Regions from separate parts of the Homo sapiens genome. Here region 1 is linked to region 2. The links come from fine-mapping of genetic effects on gene expression. Tissue or cell type: lymphoblastoid cells. Region 2 holds a variant in brackets; the other region holds the start of a gene. All regions are shown on one strand. Distances are from middle to middle.

Evidence for each region. PIP is the estimated chance that this variant, and not a neighbour inherited with it, causes the effect.
Region 1: FAM149B1 starts here. The variant in region 2 is fine-mapped to the expression of FAM149B1 in lymphoblastoid cells (GTEx, PIP 0.93).

Annotation. Positions count from the first base shown.
Region 1 is chr10:73,164,257-73,172,548 of GRCh38, forward strand. FAM149B1 (family with sequence similarity 149 member B1) reads left to right here and starts at 3,863. Exons shown (of 14, transcript NM_173348.2): 1 at 3,863-4,130. The coding sequence starts at 4,084. It overlaps ECD (ecdysoneless cell cycle regulator), which reads right to left and starts at 3,752. Exons shown (of 14, transcript NM_007265.3): 1 at 3,610-3,752. RefSeq lists enhancers at 3,571-4,170, 3,677-3,876, 4,771-5,369 and a silencer at 3,927-4,116.
Region 2 is chr10:73,014,050-73,022,341 of GRCh38, forward strand. It overlaps P4HA1 (prolyl 4-hydroxylase subunit alpha 1), which reads right to left. Exons shown (of 15, transcript NM_001017962.3): 11 at 2,797-2,850; 12 at 175-240. Among named protein-coding and RNA genes, the nearest start is that of PLA2G12B, 63 kb to the left of the region's middle. RefSeq lists an enhancer at 4,270-4,829. The variant A/C (reference allele first, on the strand shown) is at 4,999.

The sequences.
Region 1 (8,292 bases), 150 kb after region 2:
CAGGAGAATCACTTGAACCTAGGAGGCAGAGGTTGCAATGAGCCGAGATCATGCCACTGCACTCCAGCTTGGGTGACAGAGCAAGACTCCAACTAAAAAAAAAAATAAATAAAAATAAAAAATAAAAAAATAAAATTTAGTCACATACCATCACCATGGTTTTGGCCTTAACCATACACCACCTACAGTAATATTTATTTAATTTTTTTAAACTTTATTTATTTATTTGAGATGGAGTTTCACTCTTGTTGCCCAGGCTGGAGTGCAGCGGCATGATCACAGCTCATTGCAACCTCCACCTCTTGGGCTCAAGCCATCCTCCCACCTCAGCCTCCCAAGTAGCTGGGACCACAGGTGCATGCCACCATGCCCAGCTAACTTTTTTTGTATTTTTAGTAGAGGCAAGGTTTTGCCATATTGCCCAGGCTGGCCTAGAACTTCTGAGCTCAAGCAGTTCTTCCACCTTGGTCTCCCAAAGTGCTGGGGTTATAGGCATCTGGCCTAATATTATTTTTAATGACCCTTTACACTTAAAACTTTATCTTTAAAATTACGTTAAAAGGAAACCTTGATATAATACAGTGAATAGAAATCTAGTATCACATTCCCCAATTAGTAAGTATGTAAGAATAAAATCTTTACTTTTTATATTTTTCCTATTTTGGAAGTGAAGAATGAAATTTTTAATGTTTGCCCTTGTACTAGCAGTGGTATGTGTAATATATTTCGAGAAACACTGCACTAACACCTACTGTTTACATACTATCAAAAACCCCAGTTCTGCCACTAATTAGTTGTGCCACTATGGACATTTCACTTTCTCTTTCTGGGTTTTTTTCTTTAATTTAGGATAAGTTATCTACCATCTCTAAAATCTCTCCCTGCTTTAAAATTTTGTTATTTAAACTCTAAAGTACAATCTGTCTTGCTCTACAGAATGTACATCTCTCTCTTTTATGAACATTGTATGGCGTAGAGGAATTCAGAACTACAAAACATTCATGTCCTGTCATTTTACCTCTGTCCTAAATTTGCCCCTTTTTCAAGTCTCATGGGATGGTAGGTATATCTTTCTTTTCTTTTTTTCTTTTCTTTTTCTTTTCTTTTTTTTTTGAGATGGAGTCTCGCTCTGTCGCCCAGGCTGGAGTGCAGTGGAGTGATCGCAGCTCACTGCAACCTCTGCCTCCCAGGTTCAAGCGATTCTTTTGCCTCAGCCTCCCGAGTAGCTGGGACTATAGGCGCACGCCACCACACCTGGCTAATTTTTGTATTTTTAGTAGAGACGGGGTTTTACCATATTGGCCAGGCTGGTCTCAAACTCCTGACCTCATGATCCACCTGCCTCGGCCTCCCAAAGTGCTGTTTTTTTTTTTTAATTTTTAAGGGTAAATAGTAGGTGTATATATTTATGGGGTACATGAGATATTTTGATACAGGTATACAATGCATAATAAGCACCTCAGGGTAAATGAGATATCCATTGCCTTAAGCATTTATCCTTTGTGTTACAAACACTCTAATTATACTCTTTTAGTTATTTTTATTAAAAAAATTTTTATAGCCAGGACATGCTCTCATCTGAACTTCGTTATTTTTAAATGTACAATTAAATTATTATTTACTATAGTCACCCTGTTGTGCTACCAAATACTAGTTTTCATTCACTCTATTTTTTTTGTACCCTTTAACCATACTCCCCCACAAACCCTCTGCAACCCTTCCCAGCTTCTGGTAAACCATCCTTCTACTTGCTATCTCCATGAGTTCAACTGTTTTAATTTTTAGCTCCTACAAATTAGTGAGAACATTTGAAGTTTATCTTTCTGTGCCATCCTTATTTCACTTCCATCCAGTTCCACTTGATCTTCAGTTCCATCCATGTTGTTACAAATAACAGAATCTCATTTTTTTTTTTATGGCTGAAAAGCACTCCATTGTGTGTATGTGCCACATTTTCTTCATTATCTGTTGATGGACACTTAGGTTGCTTCCAAATCTTGGCTACTGAGAATAGTGCTGCGATAAACATGGGAGTGCAGATATCTCTTTGATATACTGATTTCCTTTCTTTTGGGTAAATACCCAACAGTGGGACTGCTGGATCATATAGTAGCTCTATTTTTAGTTTCTTGAGGAATCTCCAAAACTGTTCTCCATAGTGACTGCACTAATTTACATTCTCACCAACAGTGTTTTATCCAAATCCTTGCCAGCATTTGTTATTGCCTGTCTTATGGATAACAGCCATTTTAACTGGGGTGAGATGCTATCTTATTGTAGTTTTGATTTGCATTTCTCTGATAATCAATGATATTGAGCACCTTTTCATAAACCTGTTTGCCATTTTTATGTCTTCTTTGAGAAATGTCTATTCAGAGTTTTTATCCAATTCTTAATCAATTATTAGACTGCTTCCTAGAGAGTTGTTTGAACTCCTTATATATTTTGGTTATTAATCCCTTGTCAGATGGGTAGTTTGCAAATATTTTCTCCCATTCTGTGGGTTCTCTCTCCACTTTGTTGATTGTTTCCTTTGCTGTGCAGAAGCTTTTTAACTTGATGTGCTCCCATTTGTCCATTTTTGTTTTGGCTGCCTCTGTTTGTGAGGTATTACTCAGGAAATCTTTGCCCACTCTAATGTCCTAGAGAGTTTCCCCAATATTTCCTTTTAGTAGTTTCATAGTTTGAGGGCTTAGATTTAAGTCTCTAATCCATTTTGACTTGATTTTTGTATATGGTGGGAGGTAGTGGGTCTGGTTTCATTCTTCTGCATACGGGTATCAGTTTTCCCAGTATCATTTATTGAAGAGACTGTCTTTTCCCCAATGTATGTTTTTGGTACCTTTGCTGAAAATGAATTCACTGCAGACATATGGATTTGTTTCTGGGTTCTCTATTCTGTTCCTGTTTTTATGCCAGTGCCATGCTGTTTTGGTTACTATAACTCTGTTGTATAATCTGAAGTCGGGTAATGTGATGCTTCCAGTTTTGTTCTTTTTGCTCAGGATAGCTTTGGCTATTCTGGCTCTTTTGTGGTTCCATATAAATTTTAGGATCTTTTTTCTATGACTGTGAAGAATGTCACTGGTATTTTGATGGAGGTTGCATTGATACCTCTTAATTTTCTAAGGGTTTTCCTTATCTCTTAATTTTCTAAGGGTTTTCCTAAATAAGAGTACTAGTTTATTCTTGCTGCCAGGTGATGCTTGGTAAAGAAAGAAATGGCGGTGGATGGACCACCCTAACTCCATGATTCCAATCTTACTCAGCTTTCTAAGAGACTCGTAAGGAACCTGCTTCTTCTTATCCAGACACCCACTCACCACAGTCTAACCAAATCATCATTTTGCCTTTCAACCCAGAGGGACAGACAGTAATTTTACCCATCCACCCCATAACGCCAAACACACGTCATCATGCAGAATTTGGTGTCAGAACTGGAAGGGACTCTATGATCACTCAGGCTAATACCTCACTGTACATATGAGAAAACCCAGAGTACAGAAAAAGAAGCGACCAAGCAGCAGGGGCTTGACTTGGAGTCTAGTGCTCTTTCCCCAGTCTAGGCTCCCTCCTGCCATCTAACAAAATGAAGCCAATTTCTCTTACGGTTCTAGGGCCTCTCCTTCGCGTCTCTGCTGTGGCACCTTTCCTTAGCCGCCTCTCCGACTGCGAGAGCTGATCGAGAGCTGCCACCGGCCGCCGAAGCCTGGATCAGGCTCTGTCCCGACGCCTGACCGGAACCTGAAGCCAGCGGAAATCCTGAGAGAAAGTCTGAAACCCACTCAGTCCCCGAAACCTTGTGTGTCGTCACTGCTGTGCGTCGGCGGGAGCATTTTGCGAGTGTCCGGGGGCCTTCGTCACTTCCGCCCCCGCGGCAAAGCAGGGAGGTCGGAGGACTGGAGAGGTGGGGACCCTGGGGAGGTGGCTGCTCGGAGTCTAGGTGACGGGGCGAGACGGGGCCGGTAGGTGGCGGGAGGGGCCGGGCCGGAGCCGGCGGGAGGGCCAGGCCCGGAGGCCCCCACCCTGGCGTGCCTGCCCCGGCCGCGGCTGAGGAGGAGGAGGAGGAGGAGGAGGAGGAGGATGATCTCCAGATACACTCGGAAGGCGGTGCCACAGAGCTTGGAGCTGTGAGTGGACTGCTCAGCCACCCCAGCCGGGGCGGGCGGCGGGCGCTCTGGGGACCCTCCTTGACCAGTCCTTCGTTCCTTTCCTTTCCCAGGGCTGGGGAGAGATTTTTCTTCGGAATTCTCTCCTCTCAGCCCTGCTGGACCCTGCCCCTTCTTCCTCCATCTCCAGCTGAGGGCGTGTCGCCCTTCGTCTGAAATTCCTGAAATCAAGCACTGGGTCTGCTGAAGCATTTGTAGCATCCGCAGTGCTTCAGGTCCCATTGTTAATGGCCATGGTAGCTCGAGAAGTTATTAATAGCTAACTGAGGGCTCCAGGAAAGTGCTCACTTGACACTGTGCAAAGCTATTTACATACATTTGCTCATTCCTATCAATGATATCAGATTGGGAACATTATTTTGCACATTCTACAGATAAAGATCCCAGAATTAAAGATTGTAGCATGCCAAAGATCACACAGCTTGAAGGTGGTAGAGCTGAGAGGTACAAACCTGATGTCGATCTGATTCCGAAGCCTGTGGTCATAACCATCACACATACTGCCTCCCCACCTCTGCAATTAAGCACCAGAATCCATAAAGATCAGTTTTGCTTTTGAGACTTTAAAGAGCAAATATTTCTGGCTTTAAAAAGATCCACCCTCACGGCCGGCCGTGGTGGCTCACGCTTGTAATCCCAGCACTTTGGGAGGCTGAGGCGGGCGGATCACTTGAGGCCAGGAGTTCGAGACCAGCCTGGCCAACATGGCGAAACCCCATCTCTACTAAAAATGCAAAAAAAAAAAAAAAAATGGCCGGGCATGGAGGCGGGGGCCTGTAAACCCAGCTACTTGGGAGGATGAGGCAGGAGAATCACTTGAACCCGGGAGGCAGAGGTTGCAGTGAGCAGAGGTCACGCCATCGCACTCCAGTCTGGGTGACAAGAGTGAAACTCCGTCTCAAAATAAATAAATAAATAATAAAAAAATAAAAAGAGCTGCCCCCTACCCTGACCGAAGTGGTGTATAATAATTTAGAAAGTAATAATAGTGTCATACATTTATTAATGCTTTACACTTCCAAAAGGGCCTTCACTTTTTTTTTTTTTTTGGAGACAGGGTCTTGCTCAGTTGTCCAGGCTGGAGGGCAGTAGTGCAATCCTTGCTCACTGCAGCCTCCACCTATGGGCTCAGGTGATCCTCACAATGTAGCCTCTTGAGTAGCTGAGACTACAGGTGCACACCACCACAACTGGCTAATTAAAAAAAAATTTTTTTTTGGTAGAGACAGGGTCCCACTATGTTGCCCAGGCTGGTCTCAAACTCCTGGACTCAAGCGGTTCTCCCACTTTGGCCTCCCAAAGTGTTGGCGTGAGCCACCATGCCCAGCTCACTTCACTTTTTGATCTTAACAACTCTGTAAAGTGGGTATGATTATCTTCAGTCTTTCAGAAGATGAAATTATATCAGAAATGTTACATATTTTAAGATTATATAGCCAAAAAGTCAGGAGTTGAGCTTGGGCTTTAACCCCAAATTCCAATTTTTTTTCCTTCATGGAGCTATATAATTTTAGCAACCATAAATTTATTAATTAAATATTAACTTTTCCTTTCATTTAGCTATGTAATTTTAGCAACCATAAATATATTAACTATTAATATTAATTATTAACTATTTAATTTATTAAATATTAATTATGCACATACATGATAATTGCAAGCATGCTATTTTGAATCATTCTTGGGTTTCTGGCTAGGCTGTCTTCTAGCCACGTGACTTTTAGGCAAATTACTACATCACTGAGCCTTCGTTTCTGCAATATAGGAGTAACACCTTATCCAAAAGCTTATTTAAAATGATGGTGTGGACCCCCACACCTGTAATCCTAGCACTTTGGGAGGCCAAGGTGGGCGATTGCCTGAGCTCAGGAGTTCAAAACCAGCCTGGGCAACATGGTGAAACCCTGTCTCTACTAAAAATGCAAAAAATTAGCTGGGCATGGTGGCACATGCCTGTAATCTCAGCTACTTGGGAGGCCGAGGCATGAGAATTGCTTGAACCTGGGAGGCGGAGGTTGCCGTGAGCCGAGATCACACCACTGTACTCCAGCCTGGGTGACAGAGGAAGACTCTGTCTCAAATAAATAAATAAATAAATAAAAATAAGAATAAAGTGATGGTGTGGAGCTTGACACATATACATCCTCAATAAATGGTATTTTCCTTGTCCCTTCGCACTTTTACTTGGGATACAATAGGCATACAAAGAAAATAAGTCTAAAACCTCTCTTTGCCTTTTAGAAGCTTATTATTTATTAAGGAATAAGATATCTACATGGTAGCAGTTTAGTTCCTAGTAAACTCTTTGGGAACTAGGAAGAAGAAACAGTCATCTCTTAGATTTGGGATGTGTTGTTCCTACTTAAAAAAAAAATTGTGAGGAAACTGTCTTTTCCCAATAAAGTGACTGAGGTTTAGCTAAAAATCTGCTTTTATGATTAATTCCAACCATTCTGAAAGTTAAAAAAAATCTTGTATGGAAAAAAATGATAGGCACTTGTTGGGCCAGAATTATTATTAACTAGTATAGTTGTATCAGTTTTCTTTCTATTTTTTTTTTTTTTGAGACGGAGTCTCTGTTGCACAGGTTGGAGTGCAGTGGTGCCATCTTGGCTCAGTTGCAACCTCCACCTCCTAGGTTCAAGTGATTCTTCCACCTCAGCTTCCCAAGTCACAGGACTACATGCCCAGCTAATTTTTGTATTTTTAGTAGAGATGGGGTTTCACCCCAGGCTGGTCTTGAACTCCTGGACTCTGTCTGCCTCGGTCTCCCAAAGTGCTGGGATTATAGATGTGAGCCACCGCGCCTGGCCTACTTGTTCTTGATTGTTGATTTGATACTCCCTATAAGGCCCAAAAGATGATTCTGTAGCTGGAGTCAGGATGAAGTGAATAATGAAGATAATGAAGATAAAATGTATCTTAATGGGAGCAAATTCAAAGCAATTTTTACTTTAGATGTTATAATAATGATAACCTGCTTTGAAGCCGTAACTTTAGTTTTCTACCTAGCCATTAAAAATTATAATTGTTGAAAAGAGTATGGGAAAGGAATGATTTTCAACATACAGCTTAACATTTTTTAATGAAAAATTTCAAACATAAACATATAGAGAATAGTATCATGCACTACCTGTCACCCCACATTCAACAGTTAACAAAGTTAATATATTTGCTTCATCTATCTTCCTTATCCTTTTCTTTCTTTTTTTTTTTTTTTTGAGACAGAGTCTCACTCTGTCGCCCAGGCTGGAGTGTAGTAGTGCCATCTCGGCTCACTGCAAGCTCCGCCTCCCAGGTTCACGCCATTCTTCTGCCTCAGCCTCCCGAGTAGCTGGGACTACAGGTGCCCGCCACCATGCCCAGCTAATTTTTTGTATTTTTAGTAGAGACGGGGTTTCACCGTGTTAACCAGGATGGTCTCGATCTCCTGACCTCGTGATCTGCCTGCCTCAGCCTCCCAAAGTGCTGGGATTACAGGCGTGAGCCACCGCACCTGGCCTCCTTATCCTTTTATTAACTTCTCTGCACCTCTCTGTGAAATAACGAAAGCAAAACTGCAGATACTGCCATTTCACCCCTATATATGTCATTATGCATCTCTAAAAATTATGGACATTTTTGTATGTAGTCATAGTGCCATTATTAAATTTAATGATATTTTTTGTTATCTAATTGTCAATTCATAGATTTCCCTGGCAGACTAAAAAATGTCTTAAGTCTCTATTTCATAGCTTGAATTTGTATTTCTTATCCTTTCCACTTTTTCAAAGACAAGCTCTTGGTTGTAGGACCACTGAATGAGAGACATACAGGTAAGTCTGCACAAATTGATCTCCACAATTTGAGAAATAATTTAAAGTGCAAGCTCCACTGACTGGGCTCTTAGCTTTATCTTTATATAGAACAATGGTACAATTCACTAAAATCTCAAACTCTTCATTTCCTTCTAGAGGCCTTCCTCTGAGAGCCAGATTACTAGGATTTGAATCTTGGCTTCATCGCTTACTAACCAAATGACCTTAAGCAGGTTACTTAATCCCTCTGTGCCTTAGTTTCCTTTGAAATGAGAGTATTTGAGATTTATGATAAACATTTGCATATTAAAGACCTGGAAGATCTC
Region 2 (8,292 bases):
ATCTTATAGCCTGAAAAAGTTGCAAGTGCAAAATAATTCTTAACTCACTTTATTCAGTTGTAAAAATGTTAAACTAGGATGCTGAATCAGAGCTACACAGAACAAACTTAAAACATTAAAATGAATCTTGTCATCAAATCCCAACTTAATCTAAAAATTTTAGTGACGACTTACATAAAACAGCCATGTAGCAATTCTATTTCCTGTCCCCAGCTCTTTGAAAGCATCTGGCTCATCTTTCTGTGAATAAAAACACAGTAAATTCAATGGTGTAAAAATTCAGTAATACAAATACTCTAGTGGCAACTAAACATCAGTAGTAATATCCTGAAGAATATGCCAACAACAACCGCAAAAGTTTCCCTTGTAATGTCCAGTGCACTATAAACATCAGGCAATCTTTTTGTAAGATGGAGTCTTGCTATGTGGACCAGGGTGATCTTGAACTCCTGGCCTCAAGCGATCCTCCTGCCTTAGCCTCCCAAAATGCTAGGATCACAGGTGTGAGCCACTGTACCTGGCCTCAAATACGTGATGACTGAACTTGTATACTGGATACTTTAGACAAGATTACTGGATAAAAAGCAGACTTATTAGCCTAAACGACAGCCATTATCTGCAAGCTACATATTATTTTAAAAACAAATACCCACAATTTTAGCTTCTAAAAAATATGACTTGACAGCCATCTCTTAGCTATACTCCTGAAGCTTAATTTACCTTGAGACTTACTTTGAACTCACGACCTACTGAAATATTTCCTAGTATTATTTTCTTTTTTCTTTTTTTTTTTTTTTGAGACAGAGTCTTGCCCTGTCGCCCAGGCTGGAGTGCAGTGCCATGATCTCAGCTCATTGCAACCTCCACCTCCCGGGTTTAAGCAATTCTTCTGCCTCAGCCTCCCAAGTGGCTGGGGCTACAGGCGTGTACCACCATGCCTGGCTAATTTTTTTGTATTTTTAGTAGAGATGGAGTTTCACCATGTTGGCCAGACTGGTCTTGAACTCCTGACCTCAAGTGATCCACCCACCTTGGCCTCCCAAAGTGCTGGGATTACAGGCATGAGCCACCACGCCTGGCCCCTAGTATTATTTTTCTAATAATGCTAGTAAAGTGACTTTCAGCACTATAATCAAGCTAAAGAATTAATATCTAAATATTTATATCTAAATTAAAATACAATACAACCTCTTGGCATTTCTCCCAGAAAAATGAAAATGCATTTTTCACATAGAAATGTAAACACATCTTTATTTGTAATAGCCAAAAACTAAAAACTATCCAAATGTCCTTCGATGGGTGAATGGCTAAACTGTGGTATATCCGTAACATGGAATACAGGTTGAGCATACCAAAAGTCCAAAATGCAAAATGCTCTGAAGTTCAAAACTTTTAGTGCTAACATGACACAAGTGGAAAATTCCATACATAGTACTCCCTGAAGTAGCTCCCCTATCATACACACTATGCCCCAGCCAGGATGGAAACAGACAGTTCCCCATAAGGCTCCTGTATCACAAGAGATTTATTTTCAAACCCATTCTTTCTTTACTGAAGGTGTAATCCTTGTGGAGATTTAGAGTTTATGCCAGGGTCTCAAATTCAGCAGCCTACACTGTGGCAGATCCTCCTCTTACAGAGCTGTTATTCCCAAAGCTCTAGTTCCTGGAGGCACATACCTCCAGCCTCTGTGTTTTGTCCCCTCTTTAATTCTCTAAGTTTGGGATCATTGTTCAGTTTGCCTTTTGGAACACCCTTTACTTTCTTCCAGGCTTGCCAATGCATTTAAAGTATCTTAAGTGATTTTATTGGGTATCTAGGTGTTTGGTTTTTTTTTTTTAACTGGTAAAAAGGTTTCACAGAATATCTGCCACACCGTATTTCCATAAATTCCAAATAGGCTATGAATTTTTAATGTTAAAATAACAGAATTAACATGTTGACAAAGAATCTCTCCTTGACCCAACTACTCAGGCTCCTCTGAACTTTCTTCTCAAGTAGGCCCTGACTTTGGGCTTCTGGTATTTACCTCTGCATTGTCCAATTTAAGCAAGAACCCTGCTAAGTCAGGTTAGCCAGAATTCCCCGTCCTTGCCATGTGATCACCCTCAAAACCTAACTGGGTTCTTCATCTTCCACTATCCCCTGGATGATGATCACTCTTCCCTGACTTCAGCAAGAATCCTGTTAGGTCAGTTTAGCCAGAATCTTCCCTTACCTCTTAGTAATTTTCCATCTACTAACACCCACCCTTGCTCATTGGCTATAAATTCCCACTTTTCCTTGTTGTATTTGGAATTGGGCTTAACCTCTCTCCCTTACTGCAAAATCCCACTGCATTTGCAGTGGTCCCTATACCTATCGCAATGGTCCCCCCTTGAATGAAGTCTGCCTTACCATCTTTAACAAGTGTCAAGAATAACTTTTTCTTTAACAATGTAATGCGGCCGGGCACAGTGGCTCACGCCTGTAATCCCAGCACTCTGGGAGGCTGAGGTGGGTGGATCACCTGAGGTCAGAAGTTCAAGACCAGCCTGGCCAAAATGGCGAAACCCTGTCGCTACTAAAAATACAAAAATTAGCTGGGCATGGTGGCGCATGCCTGTGATCCCAGCTACTCGGGAGGCTGAGGTAGGAGAATTGCTCCAACCCAGGAGGCAGAGGTTGCAGTGAGCCAAGATCGTGCTACTGCACTCCAGCCTGGGTGACAGAGTGAGACTGTTTTTTTGTTTTGTTTTGAGACAAACAATGTAATGCATAAGCCTCAGTGAATTTCTCCATTTCTTTTTCACTTACCCGTGCAAAGTCAAAATGGGGTTCATACTGTCCTCCAACTCCATAATTTGCTACCTGAAGGAAAGACACAAAGCATGAAAGAAAAGAACTATAAAGATTACTATTCAAAAAAAATCTATGAACCTCATTTTTTGGACTTTTATAGATCATGGTCAGGTATTTACAGAGAAATGAAAAATATTTAAAATCAACAAGAGTTCCTATGAAAACAGGGATGAAAAACAAAGGACAGCTACTATATATCTATGTACAGATCTATATCTACAGATGTATATATAGATATCTATATCTACAGATGTATATATAGATATCTATATCTACAGATGTATATATAGATATCTATATCTACAGATGTATATATAGATATCTATATCTACAGATGTATATATAGATATCTATATCTACAGATGTATATATAGATATCTATATCTCTATACAGATCTACATATATAGATATCTATATATATAGATCTATATCTACATATGTACCCCTCCCCACCCCCCACCAGAGACAGGCTGGAGTGCAGTGATGCAATCAGAGCACACTGCAGCCTCAACCTTTGGGGCACAAGTGATCCTCCCACTTCAGCCTCCTGAGTAGCTGGGACTACAGGTGCATGCTACCACACCCAGCTAATTTTTAAAAATTTAATACATAAGCTAAAATTTGAGATTTCTATTATTTTGTTTCACTAAACACTTTCCTTTGGAACTTAAATCAAAAAATGTTTTCCAAAGCCCCAAATGCTGAACTCGCAATCCACTTTAATAAAATATCTTTTCTTACATATTTTTTCCCTGCTAAAAAAGGAAAGAAATTAACACCAATTTAATTATTCCTGTCGAAGGGCCCTAACAACTTCAGTTGCTTACGACAATGTCCCAGTGTGACGCACCAAAATTTAAGAAAAATATTTGGTCTGAGTTCAAGTTCCAGCTCTCTTAATTACAATGTAACTTTGGATATCATCTCAGTTTTCTTATTTGTTAAAGTGAAGAGAATGATACTTAACTCTTTCCCTCAATCACACAACACAATAAAATGCTGACAAAATCAAAGGAGAACATAATTAAGAGTGCTGCTGATGAAACCAGAAGGAGAATACTGGTGGAACTGGAACTGCTGGAGTGTGTCTTGCTCTGGGGCCAGTAGCCACAGCACCCCTTCATCCCTGAAGCTAAGCCAGGAATGAAGGCCTACTTGAAGGCCTGACATTCCCAAGCAGAGCTGCCAGCAGCTGTTACACCCTTCCTGGTGGGGTCAAGAGAGGTGGAACTGCTCTACCCACCCCTCCCCCAACTCCCTGAGGCAGGAGCTGCAGCCATGTACTCCCTCCCAAGAAAATAGTACTTTGGCAGAACCCTGCATCCCATGAGATGTCTGGGCCACCCAGAACAGTCACGTCCCCTGAGCCTGAGCTGAAACAGCACATCACCCTTGGGGAATTGTTGCACTGGCCAAGCTGAGCAGCTGCACATCCCAGGGCTGAAGTAGTACCCAGAGACCCAGGGAAACAGAGCAGTGGCTAAGCTGAGAAATGTGCCCTGCAGGGCAAATAACTCTAGTACCCTGCTTCCCTGGAGAGTCTGCGCTGCTGAGACACTTCTCTTTCTAGGGAGTGAAGTCATTGCTGTGCTGCTCTCTGCCCCACAGGGCCCAAACAACAGGCATGCTTGGCCATTCAGGGGTGCCTGTTCCTGCTGTACCTGGCCTCAGAGTCTGGGATCCATCTGAGCTCCACCAATCCAGGTTCTAGAGTGACTACTAGAACCTGGTGCCTCATCCAGGGCACCTCATCATGGTGCCTCATCCCCAGGGATAGGAGTTGCCACTAAGCCCTATTGGCTCAGGCTCCTAATAGAGCCAAACCCTGCATCCCAGACTCAAACCTCCAGAGCATCCTCTCTTCCCTGGAGTTGGGCCAGGGCTGTGCCCTGTCCACCAGGGGTAGACTCACAGCTACAACCTGACACTCTTTTCCCAAGCAGCTAGAGGGTGCCTCAGAGTCACAGATCCTGGCACTATAGGCAACCTACATCCAACCCTGCCAATAGTGACCCTGTACCCTAACACCCAGGTGTTACAATAGTATGCAAGACCCTGAGCCCAGGATCCTAGCCCCATAGCCACTCCAAACGCTTGCACCTGGATTGCAGCACCATGGCAGCTGCTTGTAGGATATGTAAGACCTGCCACCAAGA[A/C]GACTCCCACTGGCTAAAACTCCCTATTGTGGGGAAAACAAGAATGGAAGGATTCCAAAAGCTCTTGCCACTGAAGATATTAACAATCTACTCCACAGCTACCACCACTGCAAACTTCTCCAGCCTAGGCTGTTGAGGCACCCACAGTTATTCTGACAATGAATGCAGCTGAATAGGCTATAAGAGACTACAGTACTGAACCTACCTGGAAACAGAGTCACCACACCCTTCCCAAACAGCCCAACAGAAGCGGAAAGTTTAAAAGAGCCAATTGTTCCACTAGATGCACAGACATCAATGCAGGAAACAAGAAACATTAAAAAGCAATGAAATATGACACTGCTGAGAATGTAACTCTCTAGTTACAGGCCCAAATGTAAAGGAAATCAACACCTAGCTAGAAAAAAATTCAAATAATGATCTTAAGGAAACTCAAACAGATAAAAGAAAATACAGATAGATAATTCAATGAAATCAGGAAAACAATTCATGATATGAATCAGAATTTCAACAAAGAAAGATATCATAAAAAAGAACCAAACAAAACACTTGCAGCTGAAGAATTCAATGAATGCAGGAGGCTGAGGCAGGAGAATCGCTTGAACCTGGGAGGCGGAGGTTGCAGTGAGCCAAGATCTTGCCACTGCACTCCAGCGTGGCGACAGAGCGAGACTCTGTCTCAGAAAAAAAAAAAAAAAAAGAATTCAATGAATGAAATTAAAAATACAATACAAAGCTGCACCAGCACACTTGATTAAGCAAAACAATCTCTGAACCTGAAGATACATTATTTAATATTACTCAGAGGGGAAAAAAAAAGGAAACAATAATGAAAAAGGATAAAGAGAGCCTACAAGACTTCTGGGACACCATTAAACATTTGTATTACAGGAGTTCCAAAAGGAGAAGAAAGGTAAAAGGCACAGAAAACCTATTTAATAATAGCTGAAAACTACCCAAGTCTGGGGAAGAGATAAGGGTATCCAACTCCAGGAAGTTCAAAAGTCCCCAAATAGATTCAACCAAAAAAAGTCCCCTCTGAAGCACATTTCAGTCAGATTGTCAAACATCAAAGACAAATAAAGAATTCTAGAAACAGCAAGATAGCTAGATTAACAAAGAAAAAAGATCCAAATAAGCACAATCAGAAATAACAAAGGTGACATTACAACTGACCCCAAAGAAATATAAAAAGTCCTCAGAGATTATTATGAACACCTCTATGCACACAAACTTTTATAAAAAACCTAGAAGAAATGGATAAATTCCTGGAAACACACAACCTCCCAAGACTGAAACAGAAAAAAACTGAAACCCTGAACAGACCAATAAGGAATTCTGAAATTGAAATTCAATTTTAATTAAAAACAAAAAAACAAAAAAACAACCTACTAACCAAAAAAAGCTCTGGACTGGATGGATTCACAGCTGAATTTTACCAGACATACAAAGAGCTAGTATCAATCCTACTGAAATTATTCCAAAAGATTGAGAACGAATCTTTCCTTAACTCATTTTATGAAGCCAGCATCATCATTCTGATACCAAAACTCATCACAGACATAATGAAAAAAGAAAACTTCAGGCTGATATTCCTGATGAACACAGACACAAAATACTCAAAAAAATACTAGAAAACAAAACCTAGCAGCACATCAAAAAGTTAATTTACTATAATCAATTAGGCTTTATTTGTGGGGTGCAAGGTTGGTTCAATAAATGTAATTCACCACATAAACAGAATTAAAAACCATATGATCATCTCTGCAAATGCAGAAAAAGCTTTCAAAAAAATTCAGCATCCTGGCCAGGCACAGTGGCTCACACCTGTAATTCCAGCACTTTGGGAGGCCAAAGTGGATGGATCACCTGAGGTCAGGAGTACGAGACCAGCCTGGCCAACATGGTAAAACCCTGTCTCTACTAAAAATATAAAAATTAGCTGGGCATGGTGGCAGGGGCCTGTAATCCCAGTTACACAGGAGGCTGAGGCAGGAGAACTGCATTAACCCAGGAGGTGGAGGTTGCAGTGAGCCAAGATCACACCACTGCACTCCAGCCTGGGCAAGAGAGTAAGACTACATCTCAAGAAAAAACAAACAAAAAAACCCAAAAATAACAGACACTGGCAAGGATGAAGAGAAAGGGGCATGCTCATACACTGCTGGTGGGAATGTAAATTAGTACAATCACTATGGAGAACAGTACAGAGGTTCCCTTAAAAACTAAAAATAGATCTACCATATGATCCAGCAATCCCAGTGCCAAGTATATATCCAAAAGAAAGGAAATTAGCATGATGAAGAGATATCCGCATTCCCATGTTTATTGCAGGACTATTCACAACAGCTAACATATGGAATCAACCTAAGTGTCCATCAACAGATGAATGGATAAAGAAAATGTGGTGCTTATATATAATGAAACACTATTCAGCCATAAGAAGAATGTAATCTTATCACATGGATGGAACTGGAGTTCATTATATTAGTAAAATAAGCCCAGCATAGACAAATATCACATGTTCTCACTCACATGTGGGATTTCTGCATTTCCAACTGAGGTACCTGGTTCATCTCATTGGGACTGGTTGGACAGTGGGTGCAGACCATAGAGAATGAGCCAAAGCAGGGCGGGGCATCGCCTCACCCAGGAAGCACAAGGAGTCAGGGAATTTCCCTTTCCTAGCAAAGGGAAGCCATGACAGACTGTACCTGGAAAAACCGGACAATCCTGCCCACATACTGCGCTTTTCCCACAGTCTTAGCAACTGGCAGACCAGGAGATTCTTTCCTGTGCCTGGCTCAGTGGGTCCCATGCCCATGGAGCCTTGCTCACTGCTAGTGCAGCAGTCTGAGATGGACCTGAGAGGTTGCAGCCTGGCTGGAGGAGGGGTGTCCACCATTGCTGAGGCTTGATTAGGTAAACAAAATGGCCAGAAAGCTCAAACTGGGCGGAGCCCACCACAGCTCAGCAAGGCCTACTGCCTCTGTAGACTCCACCTCTGTGGGCAGGGCATAGCTGAACAAAAGCCAGCAGACAACTTCTGCAGACTTAAACGTCCCTGTCTGACAGCTCTGAAGAGAGCAGTGGTTCTCCCAGGATGGCATTTGAGCTCTGAGAACCAAAGACTGCCTCCTCAAGAGGGTCCCTGACCCCCGTGTAGCCTAACTGGGGGAAACCTCCCAGTAGGGGCCGACAGACACCTCATACAGGCGGGTGCCCCTCTGGGATGAAGCTTCCAGAGGAAGGATCAGGCAGCAATATTTGCTGTTCTGCATCCTCTGCTGGTGA